Linked DNA regions of Homo sapiens. The protein of the gene in region 1 purifies or fractionates together with the protein of each later gene. This does not show direct contact. Each region holds a gene or a part of one and is shown in the gene's direction. Other genes may lie near its edges.

Region 1 (7,538 bases):
GCACAACACAGTGAAAGCCAGGTCAGATGTCCTAGGCGTACAAACTTTGAAGTCTGTATCACAGATGAGAAACAAGAGAAAAAAATAATTTAGTGTGTTTACATACAGAAGCAAGAGAAAACTATCTTTTCCACCCCTCCCCAAAAGATAGAAAAAAAAAATCTTTGCTCCTTGGATGCAATAATTTTGGGTTCTCTAAATGTTTCAAATATAAATACATTTCTTCAAAGCCAAATGCAGTGAGTAGGTCTAAATTACCTAGTCTATTACTACGGGAAACAAATGTTCCCAATAATTTTTTTTTTCTCTGACTCATTAAGGGTTTAAAATACATTGAATTTTGAATAACAAATTGTGATATCTGACTTTCATTAATGTCTAAATTCACTTAAGACAAAACTCAGGTAGAACAGTTAGGGGATACTGCCCCTTTTGGGAAAGGCACTTGCTCTTAACTTCGGTAATCTTCCCCATCCCTATTGTCTGTATTCAGCCACTTTATTTAAGTAACATGCCTACTTGGCCACTGTAAGCATTCTTATTAAATGGAAACCTTTCTAATTTAATGCTTTTTTTTGTTCCTAGAATCTTGTTCATTAACAAGATCTTCATTCTCTAAATTATGGTCACCTTCATTCTTAGCACCAGTATGGGGTATAGGACCATATTCCTCATGCTATCCCTATTCAATGACTGATCCTCCCTCCAGCCTATTCCAAAAATGTCTTTCTTACTTCTCTAGGACCCAGCCTCTCATAATAATAACTCCACTAATAATCCCTTAATAGTCCACTAATCAGCCCTTATTATTATTACTGAAGAAAAAGAAACTGGAACACATCCTCAGTAATTATTACAAGAGGCTGGTTGTTAAAAGTCCCAGCACTACCCTTGATTTACATGGTAAATTTACTTCTCAGAATTTTTCTTATTTTTCAACTAGTTAACTTAGTGTAGTAACGATTGCTCCTCTCACATGAAACGGAGTATAAGTAAACAGGAAAATGTGAGACATTAAAATTAGAGTAAGACCAAAATCATTATGTAGATTTCTAGATAACATTTTACAACTGTGAATTGTTTTATCAGCATATATTGAGGAACTACTGTTGCCTATGTGTCGCACTATTTCATGCCCACATATAGCTTCAAAGAAATAGAAAGAATATGTTGGTTCTCAAGGAGCTTAAATTTTATCTGGAGAGATCACATAGAAAGCACTATAAAATATACATGAAATACTTTTCTATATCTAAAATAACAGCATAAAAGAAAGCATATTATGCTACTAGAAAGCCAGTTAGAAAGGTAACGATAAGTTGAGGACGTTGAACAAGAAAGGCTTTTGAAAAAGGTTCTTGGGTCAATTTTCAGGAAAGTTTTAGACATAGACTTATGAGAGAGGGGGAAAGTATTCCAGCAAGTGGCAATTTTTGCAGAGCTTTTATTTTCAAGTGCTCAATTGGTTCATCTCTATTTTTTGTCAGCAGACTTTTAAAGGGGATTTTGTGGTGTTGGTTGGAATTGATATATTTTTAATGCTCAAGAATATGTAGACAGTCAAGTATTATTATAGGTAATCATCTCGAGTCTTCAGTTCAGTCTTGACATCTTCCCTCTCAACAGAAATACTGCACTTTCTGCAGGAGGTAAGGTGTTCAGCATGTAGATGCTGACCTTAAGGAGTTTATGATTGATTACCTTAGAGATTTAGGCACCTAAGTGAGAAGTTAAACCACATGCAGTGGCTACCTAGCCATTCCAGAAATGTCGTAAAGCAGTGGATGATAAATATCAAAAACACCAGTACTGACAAGTCCCAGCAAAGTTCACAGGAGGTGTAATCCTTGGAAGAAAAAGGCTTCAGGGAAAAAAAAAAAGTAACTTAAAATCAGTTCAGCCTGGGAATCACAGAGGTCCTCTAATCCAACTAGATGAATCCCTTCTATGAAATCACTAATAAATGGCTCTCCTTTTTTTTTTTAATCCTCACCAGTACCAGAGAATTTGCTTTCATGAGACATCAATTTAAAAGTTTTAGAAATAATGTCCTTCCTTATACAAAGTCTCAAATCAGCCTCCTTCTTAAATTTAATAGTGCTATCCAGAGCTTCTCAGATCAGTGCTTTGGCATCCTCCAGCACTCCAGTGTGTCACAGGTGTGCTGACTTATTTATTTCCTTAGCCCTCCAAGCTGTCCTGCAGAGACTGAAGTACCCACAGCCCCAGAACTATGGCCATGAGAAACCTCCTGTGTTTATCACATTGCCATAAATAGTATCACCTCTTATGTGTACTCTGCTGTAAAAAAGATTGTGAAGCATTGCTCAGTATAATGTGTTGGCAAAGAGATCAAGTCTCTGGAATCACACAGACCCAAGTTAGAACCTTAGCTCTGCCCGATATTAGTTTTCAGGCCTTGGAAAAGAAACTACATCTTTTCAAGCCTCAATTTCTACATTGCAAAATGGGTGCAATAATACTGCCTCCCTTGTGAAGTTGGTGTAAAAATTAAAGATGATAACATAATAGCACTAACAAAAAAGTATTATTGTTATTTGTTCTGCTTTTACCCTTTTAAATATACTATAGAATTCTTCTTCTATTTTTAGAAACTTCAGAATATTTGAAGCTAGTTTATTGTTTCCTCTCAGTATTCTCCTATGGCTAAATAGCCTAAGTTCCTAAGTTTTTCCTCGTCAACATAAATTCAAGTTCCTTCTACATCTTAGTTTCTCTCTTTATTTCTTTTTGCATATGTAGTACTAAGAACTGGATGCATCCCTGTAGATTTGGCTTGACAAACTAGTCCTTGAAGTGTGGATGGAATAGGGCAGTGGAGGAAAGATATTCATGCTGGAGAACCGTGTAGTAAGCAAAGGAGAAGTCATAATACATCTGTCATGTTTATCAACAAATGGGCCTCACTGGCTACAAATATAATCATATGGGGGAAAAAGAATTTTAAAGAGGGAGCATTGTGAACTCCTGTAATCATGTGACTATAGATTCTATCCAATGTAATGAAATACCAACATAATTGTCATTAAAGGAGATAGATCTCTCTTTTGAAAGCAAGCAACCACAGTATTTATGTGAGCTACAAGCACAATGTCATAATACATACTATAATCCCTAATCCCTTTTTTCTTTTTTTCTTTTTTTTTTTTTTGAGACGGAGTCTTGCTTTGTCGCCAGGCTGGAGTGGTGCAGTGGCACGATCTCTGCTCACTGCAACCTCCGCCTCCGGCTTCAAGCGATTCCCCTGCCTCAGCCTCCTGAGTAGCTGGGAGTACAGGCACGCGCCACCACGCCCGGCTAATTTTTTCTATTTTAGTAGAGACGGGGTTTCACCATGTTGGCCAGGATGGTCTCGATTTTCTGACCTCGTGATCTGCCCGCCTCGGCCTCCCAAATTGCTGGCATTACTGGCGTGAGCCATCGTGCCCAGCCCATCCATACTATAATCCTTTTTTGCTCCCCTAGAATTGTCCCAACAGGATGCTGGAAAACTGGAGATTATCTGCAAGCTACACATACCCTGGGCTTTCAGTGGCTGTTGGCTATTGCAGTCCACTCTGGTTGAAAGAGGCTGGTGACACAGTTACCTTGTCCTATCCTAAGAGTCACAACTCAGAAGATTCAACCTTCAGATTTCCTTTATTCCTGAGCCCTTTTATTCTGGCCTTCTGGTCTTTCTTCCATTCATTCCATATAGCATAACGCTTAGAATCTGTTGGTGTTCATCCCCCCCCCCCCACCTCTGCTAAGTATTAGTTGTGTGACATTGGGCAAATTATTCTACTTTGTAACTCAGTTTTGCCTTCTGTTAAAATGAGGATTTTTTTTTACAGTACTTTAACAATAAATTGTGACCATTAAATGAGATAATGTATCTATAGTGCTTAGAAGAGAGCCTGGCAATAATAAGCGCTATTTATGTTAACTGTTATTTTGAGTCATTATTATTCATACATTCAACGAATACCACTGTGCTAAATACAGGGGATGTGTTGGTACATCGGACAATCTCTTACCCCTTATGGTCATATTTCTTCTGATTTTGTGAGACACGCAATGACTTTCGAATCTGACTCCTGGATGCAATTTCAGAAGCTGCTGTTGGTAACTGTGGATGAGGCACTTACCCTCTCTGAGCCTGTTTCCACATCTGTAAAATGAGGATTAATAAAATCTACTTGGAAGATTTGTTTTGACTATTAAAAAGACAAAATATGCAAATTATCTGGCACATTTGAAGTCGAATATACTTTCCTTTTCACAGTCTTGTGGCCACACCTGAGGCTAGGGAACTCCACTCTAGGCTTAGAAAACAGTGCTGTCTTCTTAAGTGCTGGGGAGGAGTAAGAGGGTATGGCGGGAACTCATCTGCAGGAAGGGTAAAACCCAGAAGGCGTGGGAGGAGACAGAGACAGGAGGGATGCAGGGACCGCCCCTGGCCTACAACTCCCGGGATGCTCCGGGAGCGCCCCGCCCCGCCCCACCCCGCCCGCCGTGGCGGGCGCTGCCCACCCGGCGGAGCCGAGCGGCGTGCAGAGGCTACAAGTGCCGTAGCTGGTGATTGGGGGACTTTCTCCGGGAACCGTGCCGGGAGAGCGCGCGGTGCTGGAGCCGCACCGGGTGGCCGAAGCAGAAGGTGAGTGGCGGGGAGTGGGATGGGGTGGAGGCTTTGAATGCAAGGGTGAGAGCCCTGGAGCCTAGCAGAGCTGGAGCGCATATCCCCGCTCTCTCTCCTTCGTCTCCGAGTACTAGGCGGACACATCCGTACCTCGAATGCCTCAGTGGGCGCAGAGTTCACCAGAAATGGATAGCCGGATTCCTCGGCGCCTGCTGGGGGCACCGCTGCCAGGTGCTTGGGGCTCGCTCTCCCGGCTTTGCTCGCACAGGGCGCATCCAGAGGTCGCCTCCCCGAGATCAGCCTTGCCTGTGTCAGTTTAAAGCAAATATTAATGCTTTTAATTGATGACAGATGGACGAGGGAAAGTGCGTGTCCCCTCGCTTTAAGGTGCAATGTCGTTAACTGGGCTTTTAAGCAGATCAGAGGAAAAAGAGGGAGAGGACGGAAGAAAAGAGTCTTTAGCTGGTCCCCTGGGATTATCCATTCTCCACTGAGAATGGAAACCCCGGATTAGGGAGCTGCAAAGGAAATCGACTGTGCTGCTAGCATACCTCCGGTAGAACAAGCGAACAAGCGGGAGTAGCTTTTCTTTAAAGAGAGGTAGAGGCGGCCGTAGGGAATTAAGTGGGGATTTCTCTCTTCTTTTGTTATAAACTGAAAGTCTCAAAGAACCCTGCTGATTTTATCCAAGGTAGGCTAGTGTGATGAGTTAATGGTACCAAAGGTTAATCAGAGCCCCTAATGCCTGAGAAAACTGGAAGAAGAGTTATCGGTAATTGATGAAGCCTGTTACCATCACTTCATTCATTGAGGGATCCTTTAGTGGGGGTTTGTTCTAGTTTAGTAGTGATTCTTTTGCCCTGTTGTTTTTTGCTGTTTTCACTGTAGAGAAACTCCGATAACAGGAGAAAAACGTTTTCTGTTTTGCTTTTTTTGTTTTGTTTTAAACAAACTCTTAGGTGTAGCAGAAAACATGTCAATTCCCTCTCCCATATTTTGAGTTGCCAGGTTGACCTTAGGTGACCCTTGCCTGTGTTTCTGTTACCAGCTTTGGAGCTGTGGATTTTGAATTATAAGAAGCCTCAAGCCGTTGGGTTAAATCAATTATCACCCTGGATTTGGAAGCAAAATAAAAGGAGCCTTTGGTTAAAATCTCTAATGATAGTGGAAAGTGAATTTTTATTCCTTAGAAACATGGCAGAGGCAGAGAAAAGCCGATGGTTTTCTGCTCAAACCAAAGTTCTCTCCCAGAAATGCCCCTTGCTGCAGTCGGGGGTGAGGAGTGACATGTTTATAAAATTACAGAGGTAACCTTGGAAATAGCTTCTCACCTATTTGTCTCCACAGAACTCTTACTCTGTGGGTTTATAGTTTGTCTTTTATTATCAGTTCACTTCTAGATTGGGTTTGTAAAACTATCCAGATGGTCAATTTCTTGTGCATTGTGTGATAGCAAAGCATGCAGAGAGGGAGGAACACAGACCCAGGGAACGGGAGTAGCAGATCCTGCAGCTGGAGCAGGCAGGTGTGTGTGTGGAGGAGTGGGTTGGCCCATTGTATTTTGCAGGGATTGCCGTAAGGTCTGTTGCCTGTATGCTTTGGGGTCCAGAACATGCTTCCCCCATGGAGCAGTGAGGGAATAGGGCTAAGTGGAAGCACAGTGAATAAGCAGCATATGGTCTTGTAAATACAGGGCTGTGTCACTAGGGTCATTGGATGTATGAGGTGTAAGCTTAGCAGAGGTGGCTGATTAAGCTGGCCTTTTTCATCTACTTCAGAGCTATGGAATCAAAATGCTGAGTTCCTGCCCAGCTGATAGGGGTGTATAGTCATTCACTGATGGTGATGCTCCAAAGCTAATCTGTATTAGAATTTGCTCTGAACTAGGGAGAGTGTAAACACTTACAATCTTACTGAATTAACAAGTCTATGCTTCCCCAAGTCCTCCAGAAAATCGGCAGCTCTGCTAAAAAGGGCTCTTGCCTTTCTCATTTGTCTTTTTACAGGAAACTTGCCTTCTCGTTTGAGGGATCCTTTTGCAGGAATGCGCGAGTCCTTGAATAAATTTGGCTTGGTGACGGCAGTATTCTTTCTCAGTAGACACTGCCACTTCCTCCACGCACCTTTCTACCCTGACTTAAGTTTCTCAGTGTTAATCACTATGACAAGTGAGAGCATTTGTCCCTTCCACACTTTCCTGCCACTAGGTATCCCCTCCCTTCTTTTGCCTGTTTGAGGTGGAAAAGGGGCTAAACAGGTGCAGCTGTGAAGGAAATGGGGACCCCAGGAGCAACACTCCTGGAAGTACAACCTTAGCTTCTGTTGGGTTCTTATCTAACTCTGTTGCTATTGGCAGACTTTCCGGAAGCTGCTGGGGGATGTCTGACTAGCTCTCATGGAGCTCCACTACCTTGCTAAGAAGAGCAACCAGGCAGACCTCTGTGATGCCAGGGACTGGAGTTCAAGAGGGCTGCCTGGTGACCAGGCAGATACAGCAGCCACAAGAGCTGCTCTCTGCTGTCAGAAACAGTGTGCATCCACCCCAAGAGCAACCGAGATGGAAGGGTCTAAACTTAGTTCTTCTCCAGCATCCCCCTCCTCCTCTCTGCAAAACAGTACTCTTCAGCCAGATGCCTTTCCACCAGGACTTCTCCACTCAGGGAACAACCAAATAACAGCGGAACGGAAAGTCTGTAACTGCTGCAGCCAGGAATTAGAAACTTCTTTTACCTATGTGGACAAAAACATCAACTTGGAGCAGCGGAACCGGAGCTCGCCATCAGCAAAAGGGCATAATCACCCTGGGGAGCTTGGCTGGGAAAATCCAAATGAGTGGTCCCAAGAGGCTGCCATATCTTTGATATCTGAAGAGGAGGATGATACAAGTTCAGAAGCCACG
Region 2 (6,953 bases), on another chromosome or scaffold:
AATGTTCATCAGTGGATGAATGGATAAATAAAAAGTGGCACATTCATGCAATGAAATATATTATTCAGCCATAAAATAGCACCACTGCACTCCAGCCTGGGTGACAGAGCAAGACTTTGTCTCAAAAATAAAATAATATAAAACAATTAATGTTATGTTATATGAATGTCATTTCAGTAAAAATTAAAACAACAACAAATGAGTTGCTCTGGAAAAACACAACTATTTCTAATAATGAGACCAGAAAGGACATTCTTTAATGAAATGAACTCTCAGCAATATATTTATTTGAACAAAATGTTGCGTTCATATCATTCTTCAATATAAACTGATGTCAAGGCTAAAAGGGTGACATGGTGAAAGGTATTCTATTGGGAACAGGGTGGGTAGGGAAAGAGAGTAGGAGGAACAGCGTGTTAGTAATGTGGCCCAAGCTACATTGGTCTCTCATAAGGAGGCTTAAGGCAGAAATGAAATTAAAAGCACCTCAAAGAAGAGTTGGACCAGAATCCATCAAAATTGTTTCCCTCAGATTTTTGGAAGTTATGGAGCAGGACTGAGTTTGAGATTGCACTCCCTGTCAAGTATCTGGGTACAGTCAAGAATAGAGCCTCATACTTTAAGTGTTAGCCAGTCTGGAAGCAGGAGCAAGATCCACTAGCAAATGAGGAGAATGTTGGAAGTGAGCAGTGACAGTGTTGAGGCAGTGAAGGTTCTCCTGAAAAAGCGTTGGGTCTTCTCAAACACCAAACAAAGGGTAATTATAAACCCATATAGTTCCATGAAATAAATCATGCTCTAGTATCTTCAGAGAGGAAAGGTTTCTTGTAGATCAAACAAGGTCATGTATATGAAAGTTCTTTGAAAAGTATAAAGTAGTATATCAATCATAGTTGTCGTTATTATTAATATCTGATAATACCTAACTTGTAAACAAAATATTTGAACAACATTTTCACATACAGTGTTCGTTCATCATTCTCAACAAATATTGATTGAATTGTCTGCCAGGTAGGGTAGGCAATATCATCCACATTTTAAAAAAAAATTGTTTTGTTTTTTTTTTTGAGACCGAGCCTTGGTCCATCACGCAGGCTGGAGTGCAGTGGCATGATCTTGGCTCACTGCAAACTCTGCCTCCCGGGTTCAAGCGATTCTCCTGCCTCAGCCTCCTGAGTAGCTGGGATTACAGGCATGCACCACCACACCTGGCTAATTTTTTTTTTGTAGTTTTTTTGTTTGTTTGTTTTGTTTTTTTTTTTTGAGGTGGAGTCTCCCTCTGTCGCCCAGGCTGGAGTGCAGTGGTGCTATCTCGGCTCACTGCAAACTCCGCCTCTCGGGTTCAAGCCATTCTCCTGCCTCAGCCTTTTGAGTAGCTGGGATTACACGCGCCCGCCATCACGCCCGGCTAATTTTTGTATTTTTTTTAGTAGAGATGGCGTTTCACCATGTTGCCCAGGTTGGTCTCCAACTCCTGACCTCAGGTGATCCGCCCGCCTCGGCCTCCCAAAGTGCTGGGATTACAGGCATGAGCCACTGCGCCCGGCTCATCTTCATTAACTCTTAATTGGACTTACTTAATGCCTTGAGGGAAGTTTGACCATTTCCATTTTTGTCTATGGAGTAGCATTTTCTTTAACTGCTATTACATAGAGTTCTCAGGAGCCATGCTACTGAAATGGCTGCACACAATGCTTAGCTTTATATTATTGACTAACATTTATTGAGTGCACACTGTGTTACGTATGGTACTAGGCATTATGCAGATACATATAGTTTTATTTACTCCTTAAAACAGCCTTCTGAGGAATTTTTATCATCCGTCTTCTGTTTGTACAGAAACTAAAGCTCGGAAAGATGAATTAACTTGCCCAAAGTCACAGGCAGAAACATAACTGGTTCAACAGTCCTTATAGGAGGTCACTTAAAGGTTCATGAAAATCAGAGGCTGAGCCAACAGAGCTCTATGATTCCTATCAGAGGAGCCAGTATGGCATAAAGCAAATGTTGAACCAAGAATCAAAGTAAGAGACAGGGCTGGGTCCATATCTAGTTTTGTTTAACTCCAAAGCTCACAGCTTAACCACTCTGCTACATGGAGACACAAGTCCACTAAGTTTATAATAATTTTAGTTCCCACCCAGATAATTATGGCAATAAAATCTGGGTCATCATCATCATAGCCACTATAGTTTACTGTTCAAAACTCTCTTATAAGTGCATAACAGTCATAGATTCAGGAACATTTATAAATCTTAAAGTCTCAATGATAGAGGACAAGGAAGTGTCCTCCACAGAAAAGCTTTTTTTTTTTTTTTTTTTTTTTTTTTTGAGACGGAGTCTCGCTCTTGTTGCCCAGGCTGGAGTGCAGTGGCGCGATCTCGGCTCATTGCAACCTCTGCCTTCCCCGGGATCAAGCGATTCTCCTGCCTCAGCCTCCCGAGTAGCTGAGATTACAGGCGCCTGCCACCACGCCCGGCTAATTTTTTTGTATTTTTAGTAGAGACGGGGTTTCACCATGTTGGCCAGGCTGGTCTCAAACTCCTGACCTCGTGATCCGTCCCCTGACCCCCGCCCCCCGCCCCGCCTCCCAAAGTGCTAGGATTACAGGCGTGAGCCACCGCGCCCGGCCGTATTTATGCTTTTGACTAACGTTTTTCTGTACAGGTGTATAGGGTAATGTAATAGGTAAAATAACTCATTCAACAACAAAAAATTATTGTAGTATTTTGTAGCTACTAGGATTGAAGTACTAAAGAATTGTCTGTCTGCCAAGGTTTGGGGAAATGGGAAAATGGGACAAGATCTTCACCACATGGGGCACATTTCACCTCTCTGGGATTCATTTCCTATTCTGTAAATGGCAGAGTTGGGGTTCCAGGTCTTGTCCTTGTTTTTTTGACTTTGTGTGAAGGTTTCTCCACCTCACCTGGCACTAGTCTTATTTCAAAATATTCATCTCATACTATCCTCTCTTTGCAATTCTTTAATTCATTCAACAAATATTTATTGAGCTTCTACTAGTATTGTGAGTAACAGAAGCAAGGTTCCTCCACACATGGAGCTTATTATAGTCCAAAAGGATAGGACAATAAATAATTTTGAAAGTAAACAAATATTTATTAATAACTGATAAATAACTATTGGTTGGAAAGGTGCTAAGAAGGAAATAAATAGGATCATGTGTTATGTCTCTGAGAGTCTTAGAATGAAGCAGACAAGCTCTTTCACTTTCAAGTGCTGACGTAGTAAAGTCATTAGGTTTCAAAAAAGGAAAAAAAGATAATATCTTACAATTAACTAATGAATGAACAGCCATTACGCTAGAAGAAAATTGTATTGTGATTGGTGTACTCCGTATCTTCTCAGAATGAGAGAGGTGAGGCTTCTCAAAAAGAGCAGCGAGAGAAAGTCACTTAAAAATTTTTTTTTTTTGGTAGGTCAAGCTAAAGACGAACTGAAAATAGACAACCTGAAGTCAGACGGGAAAGCTGCCAATCTAGTCTGGCCAGCAGAATTTCTTTCAGTAGGTCTAGGCTCCCTCGGCATTGGGAATCCAGATGTAAAGAAAACTTACGCCATAAACTTCAAGGTAGATTTCAGTTATTACTGCCCGGTGGCAGGAACCTAGGAAGGTGAGGTCAAGGTGTGGTTTAGTAAGAGACAGCTCCCGGGAACGGCACTTGGAAGGGCAGGGCGGAGAACAGCTGGAGATGAGATAGAGAGCAGGGGGAGAATGCGCCGACACCTCAAGGTGAGAGAGTAGAAACAGTCTCCGCCGTGGGAGCCGCGCGCTGCTCAGGTGGCTCTTTCCCGCTCAGGTGAGCTCCTCCCGCGCCTCCCATTGGCCGAGATGCCCGCGGCGCTGGGAGGGCGACGCAGCGCGGTCTAGTTCAGGGTCTAGGGCGGCGCGTCACTTCCGGTAGCGCGGAGCTTGTAAAACACCCTGGAGAGAAAATGGCGGCGGCAGCAGCTTCGGCGCCTCAGCAGCTCTCGGATGAGGAGCTTTTCTCTCAGCTCCGCCGTTACGGCCTGTCTCCCGGACCAGTGACGGAGAGCACCCGCCCGGTCTACCTCAAGAAGCTGAAGAAGCTTCGAGAGGAAGAGCAGCAACAGCACCGGTCAGGGGGCCGCGGCAACAAGACGCGGAACAGTAATAACAATAACACGGCAGCCGCCACGGTCGCAGCCGCGGGACCAGCGGCGGCGGCGGCCGCGGGGATGGGGGTCCGGCCGGTCTCGGGCGACCTCTCCTACTTACGGACTCCTGGGGGCCTGTGCCGAATCTCGGCCTCTGGCCCAGAGAGCCTCCTGGGAGGGCCCGGGGGCGCCTCCGCCGCCCCCGCGGCTGGCAGCAAAGTGCTGCTGGGCTTCAGCTCGGACGAGTCGGACGTGGAGGCCAGTCCCCGGGACCAGGCCGGCGGCGGCGGGAGGAAAGACCGGGCTTCGCTCCAGTACCGCGGGCTCAAAGCGCCGCCGGCGCCCCTGGCCGCCAGCGAGGTGACTAACAGCAACTCTGCAGAGCGAAGGAAGCCCCACTCGTGGTGGGGGGCCAGGAGGCCGGCGGGCCCCGAGCTGCAGACCCCGCCGGGGAAAGATGGAGCAGTGGAGGACGAGGAAGGGGAGGGAGAGGACGGTGAGGAGAGGGACCCGGAGACCGAGGAGCCGCTCTGGGCGAGCCGGACCGTGAATGGCAGCCGGCTTGTCCCCTACAGCTGCCGGGAAAACTATTCGGACTCAGAGGAAGAGGACGACGACGACGTGGCCTCCAGCAGACAGGTATTAAAGGACGACTCCCTTTCCCGGCATCGGCCCAGACGAACCCATAGTAAGCCTCTCCCCCCGCTGACTGCTAAATCGGCCGGCGGCAGGCTGGAGACTTCAGTTCAGGGAGGGGGAGGACTCGCGATGAATGACAGGGCGGCGGCTGCCGGGAGTCTAGACAGGAGCCGAAACCTCGAAGAGGCGGCGGCCGCGGAGCAGGGAGGAGGGTGTGATCAAGTGGACTCCAGCCCCGTTCCTAGATACCGTGTTAACGCTAAGAAACTGACCCCTCTCCTGCCCCCGCCACTTACTGACATGGACTCAACCTTGGATTCGTCAACAGGCTCCCTTCTGAAAACCAATAATCATATTGGCGGTGGGGCCTTCAGTGTGGACTCCCCCAGGATTTATTCTAACAGTCTCCCTCCCAGTGCGGCGGTGGCCGCCTCTAGTTCACTCAGGATCAATCACGCCAATCATACGGGCTCCAATCATACCTACCTGAAAAACACATACAACAAACCGAAGCTTTCCGAACCCGAAGAGGAACTTCTCCAGCAATTTAAACGGGAGGAGGTGTCCCCAACAGGGAGTTTCAGTGCCCACTACTTGTCGATGTTTCTCTTAACTGCTGCCTGCTTATTTTTCCTAATACTGGGACTGACTTACCTAGGAATGAGAGGGACAGGAGTATCTGAGGATGGAGAACTCAGCAGTAAGTATTAAATCCTGTGGGTAAGGTAACAAAGAGAATGTTGTTAGTGGTCCGCTTTAGCCGCGCTTAGCGTTTTACATGAAGTGACTTACCTGCAAGAATATGGTTTAACAGCAAAAACGCAACAGTGCGTGCATGTGTCATCTTTCTTAAAGAACACCATTATCGAAATGATGTCATATGGCTGGTTTTAAAAGTTTTCTGCATGATGTATTGTGAAATTCAAAACAATTTTTAAAAGAATATTATAAGCTTGTTAGTAAAACTCATTTGTATATGTGACAATTCTCTTTTAGCCCTGAAAGACTATTTGCGCAGATGCCAGTTACTTAACAAATTTGAAGTATTAGGATAAGGCACATTATAAATGTAGTGTTTTTCCAAATTGAGTTGTGATTCTAATAGGCAATGTAATAGCTCTTGAAATTCGAATTATTTTATAATATTAACTGTATGCATAAATTCGGATTAAATATTTTGTGGTATTAACTGTATGTATAATTTCTTTATAGTGAATGAATATAAAAAAGCAGCAAGGCACACCTCTTAATTTATTTCCCAGCCCAAAGCACTTTCCCTATCATCTGTACAAAAAGTAGTGGTAGGGCAGTGCAGGAGCTTGCAGTCAGATTTCCTTGGATTGGTTTCCAGGTCCTACTATTTACTTGCTAAATGACTGTAGGCAGGTGTGTTCATTGTCATAATCAAAGTATCTCTGCCCTTAAACACAAAAAGAAGATGAATACAGACCATTTTGTGTTCTCTGAAGGAAATAAAGATGAGTAATTGGCGTACACAACTTTATTTTTTTTCCTTTTTTAAAAAAATTTACCAGACTACACTGACGTAGGTGTACACTACTTTAGATTGAACGGAGGAGGTACTATTTGAGGTGAGACCTGAAGCAGAAGGAGACAGCCTTGTGGAGAAACAGTAGACCATTCTGAGCAGAGATTAAGGCCTTGAGTTGAGCAAGAGCCTTCTTGTAGGTTAGAGTGGTTAAGCACCTTGAGCAAAGGGGAGAGAGTCAGAGTTAAAGCTTCTGAACTTTCCTAATCTATAAGATGAGGCCTCTATTGACTAGAATGTTTGTGAAGATTAAAAGAGAAAGTAAATTAGGACAAAATGGACTTCTGAATACATAATTTCTCAGTGTTAGGTCCCTCTCTGCATTCTCCCTGAAGGCTTCCTACTCTTTTCACCCAAGATGAATTCACTGTATTTTTATTTGTATTTATAAAATTGGCTTATTAGTTTTATTTCAAAATAGAGTGAAAGATGCAGTTAGCCAACTCAGATAAAGAGTAGGAGTCAAAATAATGTAAGCTTAGATTTAGATATAGCCAATTCCGAGACAGTCAAATAATAGATTTTTACTCTGTTGCTTAATTACAGGGGTTGAAACAAGAATGAAATTCAGCTCTCACTTTAGTTTATTCCCTGGGAGCATGAGTGTATTGTGTCCTGCCCCAAA
Region 3 (6,966 bases), on another chromosome or scaffold:
GCCATAATCCAATCTGACTGGTATACTCATAAGAAGAGGAGATTGGGACACACAAGAGACACCAAGGATGGGCATCCATAGGGAAAAGGCATGTGGGGGCTCAGTAAGAAGGCGGCCATCCTCAAGCTATGGAGAGAGGCCTCAGAAGACACCAACCCTGCTGACACCTCGATCTTGGACTTCCAACCTCCAGAACGGTGAGAAGTAAATCTCTGTTTTTTAAGCTGCCCAGTCTGAAATTTTGGTATGGCAGCTCTAACACATTAATACACTCATGCAGGTCCTATCCATGTAACCTGAGCTTCCTCACAACATGGTGAATCTGTTCCCAAGGCAACCAGAGAGAGACAGAGAGAGGATGTACCACTTTTATGACCCAGTTTCAGAAGTCACATAGCATCACTTCTGACATTTTCTGTTCATTGAAGTGAGTTACTAAGTTATGCCCATATTTGAGGGAAGGGAACTAGACTCCCCCTTTCAAAGGAAAAATAGTCAAATAATTTGCAGACATATTTAAAAACCATCCCAATCTTTACCATCACCACCATGTTCATCATGCAGATTTTAAGATCCTAGCAGGCCAGCCAGGTGGAGGTGTGTATGCCCCAAGCAACTTGGATTGGGAATGTGGATCTGGAATTCAGGGCTAGAGATGTGGGTTTGGAAGGCATCCACACAGAGAAATAGAAAGGGAATATGACCCCAGACAAAGGGAGAGGGCTTGGACTTGAGGAATGCCTAACTCAGCTTGGCATGCATGAATATGGATTTAAAATGCTGGGAAAGACCTCAAAAAGCCAGCTACCTAAGCCACCTTGGATATTTAATAAAAAGAAATGTACTAGTTTTTTCCAGTCTACTAAAGCTTCCTACCAGCAATGCTCCACAGCCAGAATAGTTTTCAAAACATGATGGACTCAAAGATGATCAGTGTCTGCAAACTGGGTCCTAGGTGACTTACAGGCCATCCTGTTAGATCCTATCCAGGAGATTCAGCTTTGGCCAGAACCCAATCCCTGTCCACCTCCAGCAAGGGGCTGCTCTCTTGGACTGTTAGGTGCCTCTTTCTATCAGTGACTATGACTGGCTATCTTATAGAGACCCATAAACTCAACATAGGAGCTTTTTAAAACTTAGAAGTTTTTTAAACAACTTATATTTAAAATAACAAAACAATATATGTTCACTTCAGAATAAATTCATACAGGTAACCAGCAAGATGACAATAAAAAAACACCCATAGTCTTACCACCCTGGGTCATGGCTCATTGAAATTTTGCTGATATCCTTCTGTGCTCTGTGCTGTTACTGTGCACAAATATATTCTTTTTAAAAATGGGATCTTATGGAATATTTTATACTTTTTTCATTAAATATGATATAATGTGAAATGTCTTCCACTCTATTAAGTAAATACTATTTTGCAGCATCTTTTCAATGATTTCTGAGATGATCTGTGATTTTACTTAATCCTGCATGACTGAGGAATTAAGCAGTTTCCAAATTTGTTTTTTTTCCTACTTTTTATCTTGAAATAATTATAGATTTGTGAAAATCTATAATAAGATAGTACAGAGAGGAATCTCTTCATCCAGTTTCCCCCAATGGTTACATTGTACGTAATTATAATACAATATAAAAATCAGGAATTTAACCTTGATAGAAAGTTTGTGTGTAGTTTTAGTCATTTTATCACATGTGTAGATTTGTGTAACCACTACCACAATCAAGACAAAGAACTATTTCATCAGTACAAAGGCTTCCCTTCTGTTACCCTTATATATTCACACCTACACCCTGTCTTCAACCTCTGACAACCACTAATATTTTCTCCATCTCTATAGTTTTGTCATTTCAAGAATGTTATACAAATGGCAACCAGAGTATGTAACCTTTTGAGACTGACTTTTTTTCACCCAGCATAATGCCCAAGTTGTGGCATGTGTCAATTGTGCCTTTCTATTGTTGAATGATATTCTTTATATAGATGTAATCACAGTTTATTTAACCATTCACCTATCGAGGGGCATTTTGTTTGTTGACAGTTTTTGACAATTACAAATAAAGAAAGTAGGAACAATTGTGTACAAGTTTGTGTGTTAACATAAGTTTCCATTTCTCTGGAATAGATGCTCAGGAGTGTGATTGATGAGTCATATGGGAAGCATATGTTTAGTTTTTTAAAAGAAACTACCATGATATACCCATCTGTGAGTAATATATGAGAGATCCAGTTCTGTGCATACTCACCAGCATTTGCTATTTTATTTTTTAAGCTGTTTTGTAGTTGTTGTTGTTGTTTGTTTGTTTTTGAGATGGAGTCTTGCTCTGTAGCCCAGACTGGAGTGCAGTGGCGCGATCTCGGTTCACTGCAACCTCCGCCTCCTGGGTTCAAGTGATTCTCCCCTGCCTCAGCCTCCTGAGTAGCCGGGTTTACAGACGCGCACCAACACATCCAGCTAATTTTTGTATTTTTAGTAGAGACGAGGTTTCACCATGTTGGCCAGGCTGGTCTTGAACTCCTGACCTCGTGATTCGCCAGCCATGGCCTCCCAAAGTGCTGGCATTACAGGCATGAGCCACCGCGCCCTGCCTTTTTAAGCTGTTTTAAATAGGTGTATGGTGATATCTCAGCATAGTCTTAATTTGCATTTCCTTTATGGCTAGTGATGAACATCTGTCCTTATTTGCCATCTGTATAACTACTTTGGTAAAATATATATTAATGTCTTCTGTATATTTAAAAACTTATGATCCAGGATACAGTTTATCTTAATATATATACCAAGGTTGCTTGAAAAGAATGTGTATTCTGTTGGTGGGTGAAGTATTATGTAAATATCAATTAGATTAGGATGGTATTAGTGTTGATCTTTTCTATATCCTTGCTGACTTTCTGTCTAGTGTTCTATCAGTTGTTGAGAGAGGGATGCTGAAGTTTCCAATTACAGTTGCAGAGTTGTCTATTTCTAATTATGGTTCTATCATTTGATTTATTTATGTTAAGGCTATGTCGTTAGGTGTATCCACATTTAGAATTATGTCTTCTTGGTGAATTGAACCTTTTATCATTATATAATTATCCCTTTTTTATTCTTGGTAATTTTCCTTGCTGTCAATTCTACTCTCTCTGAAAGTAATATCACCACTTCAGCCTTTCAGTTTATTATCATCTAAACAACACTATTCAGCCTTTGCAGTCATCCACAATTATTAGAATTTCTTGGTTAGAGGCTTTTGACTACATGTTTTTAAAGGTTTTTGGCTGTATTGACAAATTGCCCTGCAAAAATTTACCAACTTAATACCTTAACATTTGGGCTAATTTAAAATAATCATAAATTAAAGTCAGGGCTTTCCCAATTTGATAGGTAGAAATCTTATAACTCTATGGAGGTGGAGTTGGTGGTGGTAGGTGCATCTCTAGATGACTTAAGTTCAAAAAAAGTCAAGAGATCTAAAAAAGAAGTCAAAAGATCTAAAATTCATAACTCAAGAAATAGGGGCATATGTATATTCGGAGAATCCGCGGGAATGCCAGATGCCACAGCCATAAGTAGCTGCCCTTGAGGACTGGACAGCCAGGACTGGACGGTGGGATAAGGTGACAGCTGGTTAATGGAATGGTGCCGCAGAGGACTGGTGCTTTTGTAAGTTCTCTGTAGCATTACAATTTTTAAAAGCATGTAAACGTATTAATTACCTTGACTTTACAATGACATTTGGTTGTTGGTTAAACTTGCATTTAAATTTATTATCAGAACTGCCATAACTGTGTAATCCTAACACTAAGTAAAACTCAGCCTCTCGGCGCAAATTATCACTCCCAACATTCCGCAGGCTGGTGGCGGCGCGGGCTGTCCTCGTACGCAAAACTACACCTCCCAGGATTCCGCGAGCCAAGGTTGTGGCCGGGGCCAGGGCAACCGAACTCGCGGCTCTGCGCAGGCGCACAGGCTCCGCGCCGGGCTCGCCCGCCGGGCAGGCGCACGGCGGACACCTGCGAGCCTGGAGGTGGCGGTCGCTGCGAACCCGGCGGCGCGGCCAAACCTGTGCTGGCTGCCTGGGCCTTCTGGGCCTCCTGGGCCAGAAGCTGGCGCTGGGGGCGGCGGCGGGGTGGGAAAGCGGCGCCGCCGTGGGGCCTCCTGGACGCGTCGGCGGAGGTGGCTTCGTCCCGCGGAGTCCAGGCTTCAGGTAAGACGCGCGCGCGCTTGGGGCTGGAGCGGACTCCGACACCCGCCTGGGACTTGAAGTGGAGGTGTCGAACCCTCGGCCCCCTGGAGGGGACGACGCGGTGCTGGGCCCCGGGGTGAGGGGGAGGTTCTAGGACGCCTTCGGGATCCAGGAGAGTTTGCAGAACTGAGGGGTGACGTGTGAAGCGAGCTGAGGGAGGCGCGGGAGGTGGGCGGGGCGGGGGTGGACCCTCAGGGTCGGGGGCCGGGGATTGGGGGTCGGGGGCCGGGGGCCGGGGACCTGGGCAACGCCCTGGGGCTTGCCAGTTCGAGCCCTCAGCTCGTGGCAGGCACTGGCGTCGGGTCCTCAGGCCCTTTTGCTTTGGGAGGTGATGGGTGGTGCACATTTGGCGGGGGTGGTGGGGAGCCACGCGAGGTGCGCGGAGCGGGCCTGGGCCTCCCCAACTGCCTTTGAAGGCAGAACCCCGGCAGGCCTGCAGCTGATTCCTGGGCGCTTTGGGGGCCAGTAGGGCACCTACCATGTGTGTCCGGTGGTAAGAGCTTGCCACGGCCTGCTTGGCAGTGCCAGAGTAGCCTCTGAAGAAGGAACCCAGTGAACTCCTGACTCCATGTGTGTGTTTAGGAACCCGTCTCCAGCTCACTGATGGGAACTCTCTGCTAAAGTATGTGACCGTCAGGCCAGAGTCTTGCACCAGGTGCAGGGCGACCAGTGTCTGCCTACTTTATTGCCAGCCAACACTTAGAGCGTACTCTTGGGAGAAGCAAGGCTCCGCGTGGAAAAGGATGACTTCAGGGTTATGGGGCGAGCTTGATAGGACTTAGTAGCTAAGAGCATAGACAGAGGAGGTTTCATTCACCAAATGTTTACTACAATATGTGCCCCGCCTTCAAATCTTGGTTCTCGGCTACTAGCGGTGTGCGTTTAAGCAAGTCACTTATCCTCTCTTAGCCTCTGTTTCTTTCTCTGTGAAGTGGAGATGAAAGTACAGTGCCTTTATCACGGGGTTGCAGTGGGGATGAAATAGTGCCAGGCAAGTCCTCAGCCCAGTATGTCTAACAGTAAGTGTGTGGCAAATATCAGCAGTCGTGGTGACTAACGACAGAAAGTGTTAGAGGTGCTTGGAGTCCAGGTTCATCTTTAATGGTACTAGCTGCCCTCTCTGGCTCTCATGAATCTTGCAGATCTTCCAGCTCATCCTTTCAATATTAATTTTGAGGAATCTCAGTCCCTGCAGAGCTAGGAAAGAGCATAGGTCCCCTCATCCCCAGGGGTGGTCAGCACGTTCCTTCCTGAGCCTTGGGCCCCTGCGAGAACGAGAAGGAGAGTGGAGATCTTCAGCAGAAAGGAGGGCATGGTGCTGGTGGCTGGGCCCACCGTGGCCATGTAAGCATGCTAGTTGGCAAGTTCTTGCTCTGAGCCTTGCTTTAGAAAATATTTAGCAATAAACAAAGCCTTCTAGTAAATATTGCACTAACTAGAAAATTAGATTACCAAATCCCCCATTCCAAGGGTCCTTGCCAATCTCAGCTTGGTTGTCAGTGGGATACTTTCCCCCCAGGACCTACCAATCACGTGATTCCCAGGGTTTCTTAAATTGGATGAAATAATGAATGTGAAAGGTGGAACCTGCAAATGTCATCACGGGCTTTGGAGTCCGTCTTGGTTTTGAATCCTAACCCCTCTACTTAATTGCTGTGTATCACTGGGCAATTCACTTAATGCCTCTAAGCATACCTTCTTAAATGTGAAATTGAATTAATAGCATTTACTTCAGGTAGTGGGGAATAAATGAGATAATGCGTGTAAAACAGTTAGCACTGTGCCTGGCTGAGAGTGAAAGCCAGTGAACAGGAGTTATTTTACCATTACGATTAATAATAATATTAGAAAAATAATTGTCAGACATGGTGTTTTGCCTTTGCTGTCTCTTTGAATTCACAAAACTACCCTGTGAAGTAGGTATAATTGTGTTTTTCAAGCCAGGAAGTGAAGGCTTGGAGAGGTAAAGAATTGGCCTAAGGTCACTTAGCTGCTAAGTGACAGGGATGGGAATTCATATCCTGGCATCTCCAGCTCCAGAACTGGTGCCATGTAATTCTCCTTCTCTGCTGCCCATCGTCCTTGCTGTTCTTGCATTCTTGAAGCCCAGTTATGACCTGGGGCAGCCTCCAGTCTTGCAGCAGGGAGTCTTCCCGCACCAAGTGGGTCAGAGGCAGGACCCTGCAGCCTGGCTGTGTGTTTCCTCTCTGTGGCTGGTGTTGGATGCATGGTGAAGCTGTAGGGGACAGTCCCTGAGTGAGTTCAGGGGAGGAGGTGTTAGGAAGAGGCAGCCCAGGCAAGCCCTGTCGCCTCTTTAGGGTCTCATCACTGGACAGCAGGGCTGGGTGAGGGGGCAGTGCTGGGTGAGGGTGCAGGCTGGGTGGGATCTGGGAAGCTTGTGTATGAGAAGAAATGCCTTCGTTTAGCTCCTGGGAAATGTTCTGGGGCTGCATAATTCTCTGAGCCTTATCTTTGCTTTGTGAGGGAGAGCAGCCCTTGAGCTGTGGATAAGGGAGGAGAAGGAGCCCTGGACTGAGAGCCAACATTCTGCCATTTTAATCCTGGCTGCCTGTGAGAGCTCACACTGCCTCTCCAGACCTCTTTTATGAAATAAAGAGTTGGAGGAAATCATTTCTAAGGGTTCTTGTAGCTCTAAAGGGCAGTGGTTTTGTAATTCTAAATTGATGGCCTAACCCTCTCAGCACAGTACCAGGGCACATGGGATAAATT
Region 4 (7,231 bases), on another chromosome or scaffold:
GTAAATTGAACAATTATCAAAAGTCAGAGAAGTAGTTTAGTAAACCTAGTATCTGACCTGCCTAATTTAGACCAAATGTCTAAATTTCAAAGACATTTTTATTTTACCAATAATCTTTAAAACTGCCTTGCTTTTCCAAAGATGACTAAAGTCATGTGAACAAAAAGGCATTAGCATTTTAATTTTTCTGGCAAAATATTTTATTTAAGTGCTTATTTTTATTTAAGCCAATTAAATAGAGCTCTTTTATATATTTTGGTTGTAAAACATGACTCACAGGGATGGTACAGACCAAGAGAAAATACCCCTCCATGGTCACAAGTCAAGCTCCCAAGGACATAAAACAAGACGAGGGGGAATCCTCATCCAGTTTTTGTTTCAGTGACCTGAAGCAAAGTTGTCAACTGACCAGTTTGCTGGGCCAGCTTGAATAGTGGGCTTACAGGGGTCCTAGGGCCACATTCTATCCTATGATACCCCTTTTATGACAGAATGACACAGAAAGCCAAATTCATAGCACAAAGTACACCAGATTCATCACAGCCTAAGACTAGCCTCACAAATCCTTTTTCCCATTCATCAAAACCTTGCAGAGGAGACAGTGATTTTTACCATTCACTCAACTGGTTTGCATAGAGAGAGAGAGACCAAAGGCCTGACTGGTAAGAAATTCTTACCCTTTTGCCAGCATGCCAGGTTTCTGGGATCCCTTTCCCTAAGCAGCCCTCGTGACCCTGCTCACAGCACCATAACTGTGGGGGCCAAGCCACATCGCAAAGCAAAAATCACCCTTTTCCATTTCATGGAACCATAGGAAAAGCCTCTCAATTTTGCAAGATGCTACACAACAAGTTGCATGGAGGAATCGAATCAACATTTTCCATTCTGGCCAGAACAAAGTGCACTTGACAAAACACAGACACTAGCCACCCCCCTCAGCACCCAATATCGACCTGGCAAGGCTCAAAACTTCCCCCATTGGCCCCTGTAGTGTTTAATCCATTCAAAGTGGGGGCGGAATGACTGCCAACCAGGAGTTTCAACAGGTGGTTTTTGGGCAAGATGGAAGAGTAGATCATCACCCAGAGTGACAGAGAAGACAGACAAGGGAAAGGCGAGAACGAGAGAGAGGAAAGGGAAGGGAGAAGAGTGTTGCCTGTGGTGGGTTGCAGAGGTGAGGAGCTCACAGAAGCCAGAGAAAGACCCATCCATCACAGTGACACTGAATCAAAAGTTCAGACAGCTGCTTGTCAAAAAGGGATCTTTTCCAGCAGTCCCATCAGCTCTCAAGTTTTCCCCTTTGGGGGAGGAAAAAAAGCTCCCCAGGTCCCATGATCCTGCACATGCCTAATCTTGTCACCCACAGCCATCAGCAAAGAGGGCATGGCAAATTAATCCAAATAGAATGGCGGTTAACATCCTGCAGTGCTGAATCCATTTTTAACCAAGAGGGCTCTTACTAAGGGTGGCCTCTAACATTCTGAAGTTGAGCCTTCAACCCAAGTTTGAACAAGCATTCTTGTTCTTTACAAAGAGGGGCCTCTAACTCCCTGTGTCTTAGGAGGGACTCTAACTCTCCTAATTTGGGCCTCTAACCCAATTCCATCCATTACCCTGGATAAAATACCCCACCATGTACCCAAAGTTGGTCAACTGGTGCTGAAGTCTATTTCCCTTGGGTCAGAGGTCTCTCCAGTGTTGTCCCTTCATGGTTTCTCAGCAAGATGTTATCAGAAAGGGGTTCCAGTCCAGGCCCCAAGAGAGGGTTCTTGGATTTTCCACAAGAAAGAATCTGGGGCAAGTCCGCAGAGTAAAGTGAAAGCAAGTTTATGAAGAAAGTAAAGCAATAAAAGAATGGCTACTCCATGGGCACAGCAGCCACAAGGGCTGCTGGTTGGCTATTTTTATGGTTATTTCTCGCTCATATGATAAACAAGGGGTGGATTATTCATGAGTTTTCTGGGAAAGGGGAGGAGATTTCCTTGGAACTGAGGGTTCTTCCCCGTTAGAACATCTAGGGTAACTTCCTGACGTTGCCATGGCATTTGTAAATCATCATGGTGCTGGTGGGAGTGTCTTTCAGCATGCTAATACATTATAATTAGGGTATAATTAGCAGCAAGGACAGCCAGAGGTCACTTTCATTGCCATCCTGGATTTGGAGGGTTTTGACCAGCTTCTTTACTGCATCCTGTTTCATCAGCAGGGTCTCTGTGACCCGTATCTTGTAACCTCCTATCTCATCCTGTGACTAAGAATGCCTAATTTCCTGGGAATGCAGCCCAGCAGGTCTCATTTACCCAGCCCTTATTCAAGATGGTGTTGCTCTGGTTCGAAGGCCTCTGAGAGAGCCACTGGATCTCTCAATTATTGCATACAGTTTTATTTCATTTTATAAAGGTTAAAATAGACAGAATTAAACAATATATTGTTTAGGGATACATACCTATGTGCTAAAATTATAAAGTAAGGCAACAGAATGATTAACACAACATTCAGTATTGTGGCTACCACCTCTTGGGGGTAGCAGGGAGTACAGAACAGGAAGAACCTGGAGAGTTTTAAAGATGCAGGAATAATGTGTTATTTCTTAAGCTGGAAGGCACATGTGGATCTTTTAGAAAATAAAAGATTCAAATATAATTGTCACATGCGTCCATGTGAAGAGATTCCACCAACGGGCCTTGTGTGAGCAACAAGACTGTTTATTTCACCTGGGTGCAAGTGGGCGGAGTCCGAGAAAGGAGTCAGCAAAGAGTAGTGGGATTATCATTAGTTCTTATAGGTTTGGGATAGGTGGTGGAGTTAGGAGCAATTTTTTGTGGGCAGGGGGTGGATCTCACAAAGTACATTCTCAAGGGTGGGAAAAATATTACAAAGTACCTTCTTAAGGGTGAGGGAATATCACGAAGTACATTATCCTAAGGGTGGGGAGGGTGTATTGTCATAAGGTCAATTGATCAGTGAGGGTGGGGCAGGAACAGATCACAATGGTGGAATGTCATCTTTTGTGGTTCTTCAGTTGCTTCAGGCCATCTGGATGTATATGTGCAGGTCACAGGGGATATGATGGCTTAGCTTGGGCTCAGAGGCCTGACAATAATGAGTATTATGTGAGACATGGTTGGGACTCAGTTTAGCATGACAAGAAACATTAATGAATTCAAGAAAGGTTTGTCTCCTCTCCAAAATCAAAAACCAAAAGTGCATAACAGTGTTTAGCACATTTCTATTTAGTTAAAGGTAATTTAAGATACGTGTTTATGACTTGTTTGGATACCATATAACATCTAGTGATCGCCTCTGGGCAGGGAATACAGAACGGCAATGGGAGGCTTATTTTTCATTGCGTACCATTTATATAATTTGAATTCCTCCTCTTGTGTATCTTTTACTGAACGGAAGGTTTTGAGAGAGCTGGGGGAAGTAGCTGGTATCAAGCAGGAAAGCTGAAGGTGCAGATGGGCAGGGGGCTGGTGCACCCTTCTGCCAAGCTCTCCTGCCAGAGGCTCCACGGCCACCAGGCCTTTCTCAGAACTTTGGGATGGAGGAGGGCGGGGCCGGGGAAGCCTTTTAACAGAGTGCCCTAAAATATCTCGGGGGCTAGGGCTACGGAGGGGAAAGGAGAAATCAGAGACCCTTGTTTGGCAGGTTTGTCAACTGCAGATTTTTTGCAGGGAAACACCCCACCGTCCCCACCCCAGGACACTACAGCCTTAGACCTCCCTGATCCTGGCTTTGGCAACTGGTCAGCAGCACTCTGGAGGCGGCTGTTTTGAAGGGCCAAGGAGAGGGGCTGCCTGAGAATGAGGATGGCAGAAAGGGGCCCACGGTTTTCCGCCTCCCAAGACTACGAGGGTCGGGAGGCCCATGTAAGGGGGCCCTCGCTCGGAGAATGAGAACTTCCCTCCCTAGTAGCCTTCACCCCCCTCAATGCCTCCCACCCCAAAAGATCTGCTGGGCCCACGTTCCAGCGCAACGCGGTGGAAGACGGCCCTCATGTGCCAGTGCGGACCCTCGCGCCCCTCCAGCCTGCAGCCAGCCGGCCGCTCCTCCAGCGCGCAGGCGCAGGACGGAAAAAAAAAACACAAAAAAACAACAAAAAAAAAACCCAAAAAAACACAAACCACAGCTCCCAGCAGCCCTCGCGCCGTCCGCGCGCAGCCGCAGAGCAGAGGCTGCCGGGAACGCGGGCCCAGAGGCGGGGCGAGCGCGCGCGGGGCGGAAGTCGGCCACCTTCCTCCGTCCCGGCCGTTAGCCCAGCCAAGCCCAGCCAAGCCCAGCCAAGCCCCGCCGATCGCGGGCACCGGAGCCAGCCCCGCAGCGGGTGAGTGACTGCGCCCGCGGCCGCCGGCGCCCTGCCCCAGCCACGGGCCCGGACCCCCGTCCCGGAGCCTGCCGCCGCCCTCCGACCCTGCCGCGTCCCGCCCCCTGACCCGTCAGGCCCCCTTCCCGTCCCACCCGTGCGGGATCTCTGCCCCCTGACTCGCAGACTGGGCTGGGACTCTGCCCTCTGACCTGTGGGAAAGTCCCCTTCTTCCGACAGGCGGTGGACACCACCCCCTCTGACTTTTGGGACACCTCATCCCTGGGACTAGCGTGGGGACCATTACCCTCTGGTTAGTGTGGGCACCCCTCCTCTCTAATTAGTGTGGGGACCATTCCCCTCTGATTAGTGTGGGCACCTCCCCCCTCTGATTATGTGACTCCTCCCCGCTCTGATTAGTGTGGGACACCCCCCTTCTAATTAGTTTGGGGACCATCCCCCTCTGATTACTGTGGGGCACCTCCCCGCTCTGATTAGTGTGGGGACCACCCCCCTCTGATTCATGTGGGGCACCTCCCCCTCTGGTTAGTGTGGGGACCATCCCCCTCTGATTAGTGTGGGACGCCTCCCCGCTCTGGCTAGTGTGGGGCACCCCTCCTGGGAATGACCCCCTCCCACCACCTTCTGACTTCAAATACCCCTCCTCTGGTCTATGCAGGGTCTCCTTGGACTGATAAGGGAATTTTCTCCCTCTGACTGGCACTTGGTCAAACCTGTAACAGGCCAACCTTCCCCACCCCATCCCAGTCCTTGCTCTCCCTGCCCTCATCCAATTTGGAGCCTTCCTCCAGGCACACAGCTCACTCTCATCTTCCTGCATGCAAATGATTCGCCCTCCCCACCATACCTGTCTCACACCCCTACTGCCATCCGGTCTGGATTCTCTCATCCTTGGAGACTGGTACCTCCTTGCCAGTCCATGTTGCCTGGTGCCTTTGCTTCTCCCTCCGAATGGTCTTTCCCTTGCCCTCTGTGTACCCTAGGCTTGGCACAGAGCACCTGTGACCACTCTTCCATCAGCAGACACATCTCTCTCCCAAACACCTTTCCCCCTTAGTGACCCCTGGAAAAGCCGTCTCTTAGTGTCCCAGCTCCATTTCTTATTTTATTCTTGAGGTTGTATGCCCTATGGCCTTTCCTACCACATTTTCAACAAAGCAGAGGTTTGGAAATGTGAGGCTCTTGGTGTCAAGTGAATCCGGCTAGCTCTCCAGTGTAAGGGCCCAAACTTGAAACAAGTGTCAGGTCGTAGAAGGCTCCTAAAAGGAAGCGGGTGCCGCAGCCCTTCAGGATCCGCTATCTCCCAGCTCTTCCTCCCTCTCCCTCTGAGGAGCTTTGCTGAGAAAGGTCCCTCCAGGCCTGGACCACAGACCCTCCCTGCAGCCCCACCGCAGGCCTCTCAGCAGGACAGTCTGGCTGGAGCCTGTGGAACGGCAGTGGGGCTCCTCCCAGGTGCTCCTCCCTGCTGGCCTCAATGAGCCCTCTATCCTAGCACACGCCCCTGCTGAAAGGCACACTGAAGGAGCCAACCCTCTCCCCTCTGGACGTGGCAAGGGTTTCCTGTCGGGGCAGCCCCAGGCATCTTCACGGCCAGGACTCAGGTGAAGCATGGATTTGTCCAGGCACTGTCATGAGGCCACCGCAGCAGTGTGGGGACCAACTTCTAGTGTCACTTTTTCATGTCCAAATTAACGTGATCACAAAAGAGAATGACATGTCACAAGGTGGTAGAGGGAACCCTCCACTCGCAGCGGGATAGGACCCCTGGACCCTGGGACACCTCGCTGGAGGGGCACATCTGAGGCTTGACGCTTCTGATTGCCAGAGGTCTCCTTTCTTCCCCTTAGGCTATAACCATATTTTCCTAGCCCATGGCAGCTTAGTAAATGTGTTGGTGTAAAAGCTCTTGGTACTCCAGAACGTTTTCACTCACCCGTCACTGTGCACCTGGTCTGCAGGACCCCCCTGAGCTGCAGAGTACGTGAGGAGACCCAGGGTGTGGTAGCAGCAGTTCTCCTGGCCCTGTGGGTGTTTTTACCCTGCCACCTGGATGTGGCTTTCGAGGTGTGTGTGCCTGTGCAGGCTCCCCCAAGTACATATGGCCCGTCCTCGGAGTCTCGGTACTTTCTGGCAACCGTATAGGTAGATAGGTAGATGTATAAATGCTGTAGTGTTTTCTCTTTCAAAAACAGAAGATCTGAGACTTGGAACTATTGTCCAGGTCCTGAAATGGGTCAGTACTATCACAAGGAGGTCATTTTTCTATTGTTTGTTGAATGGTACCAGGGATGCCAAGGACACACAGCATTCATTCTTTTCACTCAGTGCACTCTGAACTATCGAGATTTCCTGGAAAGCTCTTATGAAATGCCAATATCAAGGGAATTAGAAACTTTTATATTAATTCTTAAGAATGTTCATGTTGATTTTCCTTTTACTTTAATCAAGATGGTTAATTAGGAAAAAATCATCCTGGCAGTAGAGAAGTCTGTTTGGGGAGACGTTCTGTTTTTTGTTTTGGACCCTGCTCGTCTTTGTCATGCGTGCAGTGGTCATGTGGAGCGCCTGGTTCCCAGGCAGGACGCTGCTCCCCGCGTTCCTCTGGGATGGTTTTATGGGAAGTGAAGAAGGCGTTGAAGTCTGGCTTAAGACTTAAGACAGTGCGTGATGCCACCATGTGGGAGTGGGGCAGAGGTGAGACTGGGACCCCCCAGAATGGCTCTGAGGGTGTTGCCGGGTTGAGTGAAAGTCCTGGCGATTCGGCCTTTGTGTCCCGGGAGCCGAGCCTGGAGGAAAGCGTGAGGAGAGAAGGTGGCAGTAAGCAGGTGGGCTCGTGCAGGTGCCACCGCGGTGTGGAAGGCAGCCCTGATCCAGGTCCATGGGGCGATGATCCCATCCCGTTAT

The links.
Region 2: the proteins of TMEM74 (region 1) and LEMD3 purify together in Homo sapiens (co-immunoprecipitation; 2 studies listed by BioGRID and IntAct, with this or other methods). This does not show direct contact.
Region 3: the proteins of TMEM74 (region 1) and POMGNT2 purify together in Homo sapiens (co-immunoprecipitation; 2 studies listed by BioGRID and IntAct, with this or other methods). This does not show direct contact.
Region 4: the proteins of TMEM74 (region 1) and CANT1 purify together in Homo sapiens (co-immunoprecipitation; 2 studies listed by BioGRID and IntAct, with this or other methods). This does not show direct contact.

What each region holds. Positions count from the first base shown.
Region 1 is NC_000008.11:108,784,595-108,792,132, reverse strand, and holds the start of TMEM74 (transmembrane protein 74), read left to right. Parts: upstream 1-4,538; 5' UTR 4,539-4,657; intron 4,658-6,995; 5' UTR 6,996-7,034; coding exon 7,035-7,538. UniProt on the Homo sapiens protein: Plays an essential role in autophagy. TMEM74-induced autophagy may involve PI3K signal transduction.
Region 2 is NC_000012.12:65,165,640-65,172,592, forward strand, and holds the start of LEMD3 (inner nuclear membrane protein Man1), read left to right. Parts: upstream 1-3,943; 5' UTR 3,944-3,957; coding exon 3,958-5,479; intron 5,480-6,953.
Region 3 is NC_000003.12:43,103,067-43,110,032, reverse strand, and holds the start of POMGNT2 (protein O-linked-mannose beta-1,4-N-acetylglucosaminyltransferase 2), read left to right. Parts: upstream 1-3,953; 5' UTR 3,954-4,197; intron 4,198-6,966. UniProt on the Homo sapiens protein: O-linked mannose beta-1,4-N-acetylglucosaminyltransferase that transfers UDP-N-acetyl-D-glucosamine to the 4-position of the mannose to generate N-acetyl-D-glucosamine-beta-1,4-O-D-mannosylprotein.
Region 4 is NC_000017.11:79,006,760-79,013,990, reverse strand, and holds the start of CANT1 (soluble calcium-activated nucleotidase 1), read left to right. Parts: upstream 1-4,226; 5' UTR 4,227-4,327; intron 4,328-7,231.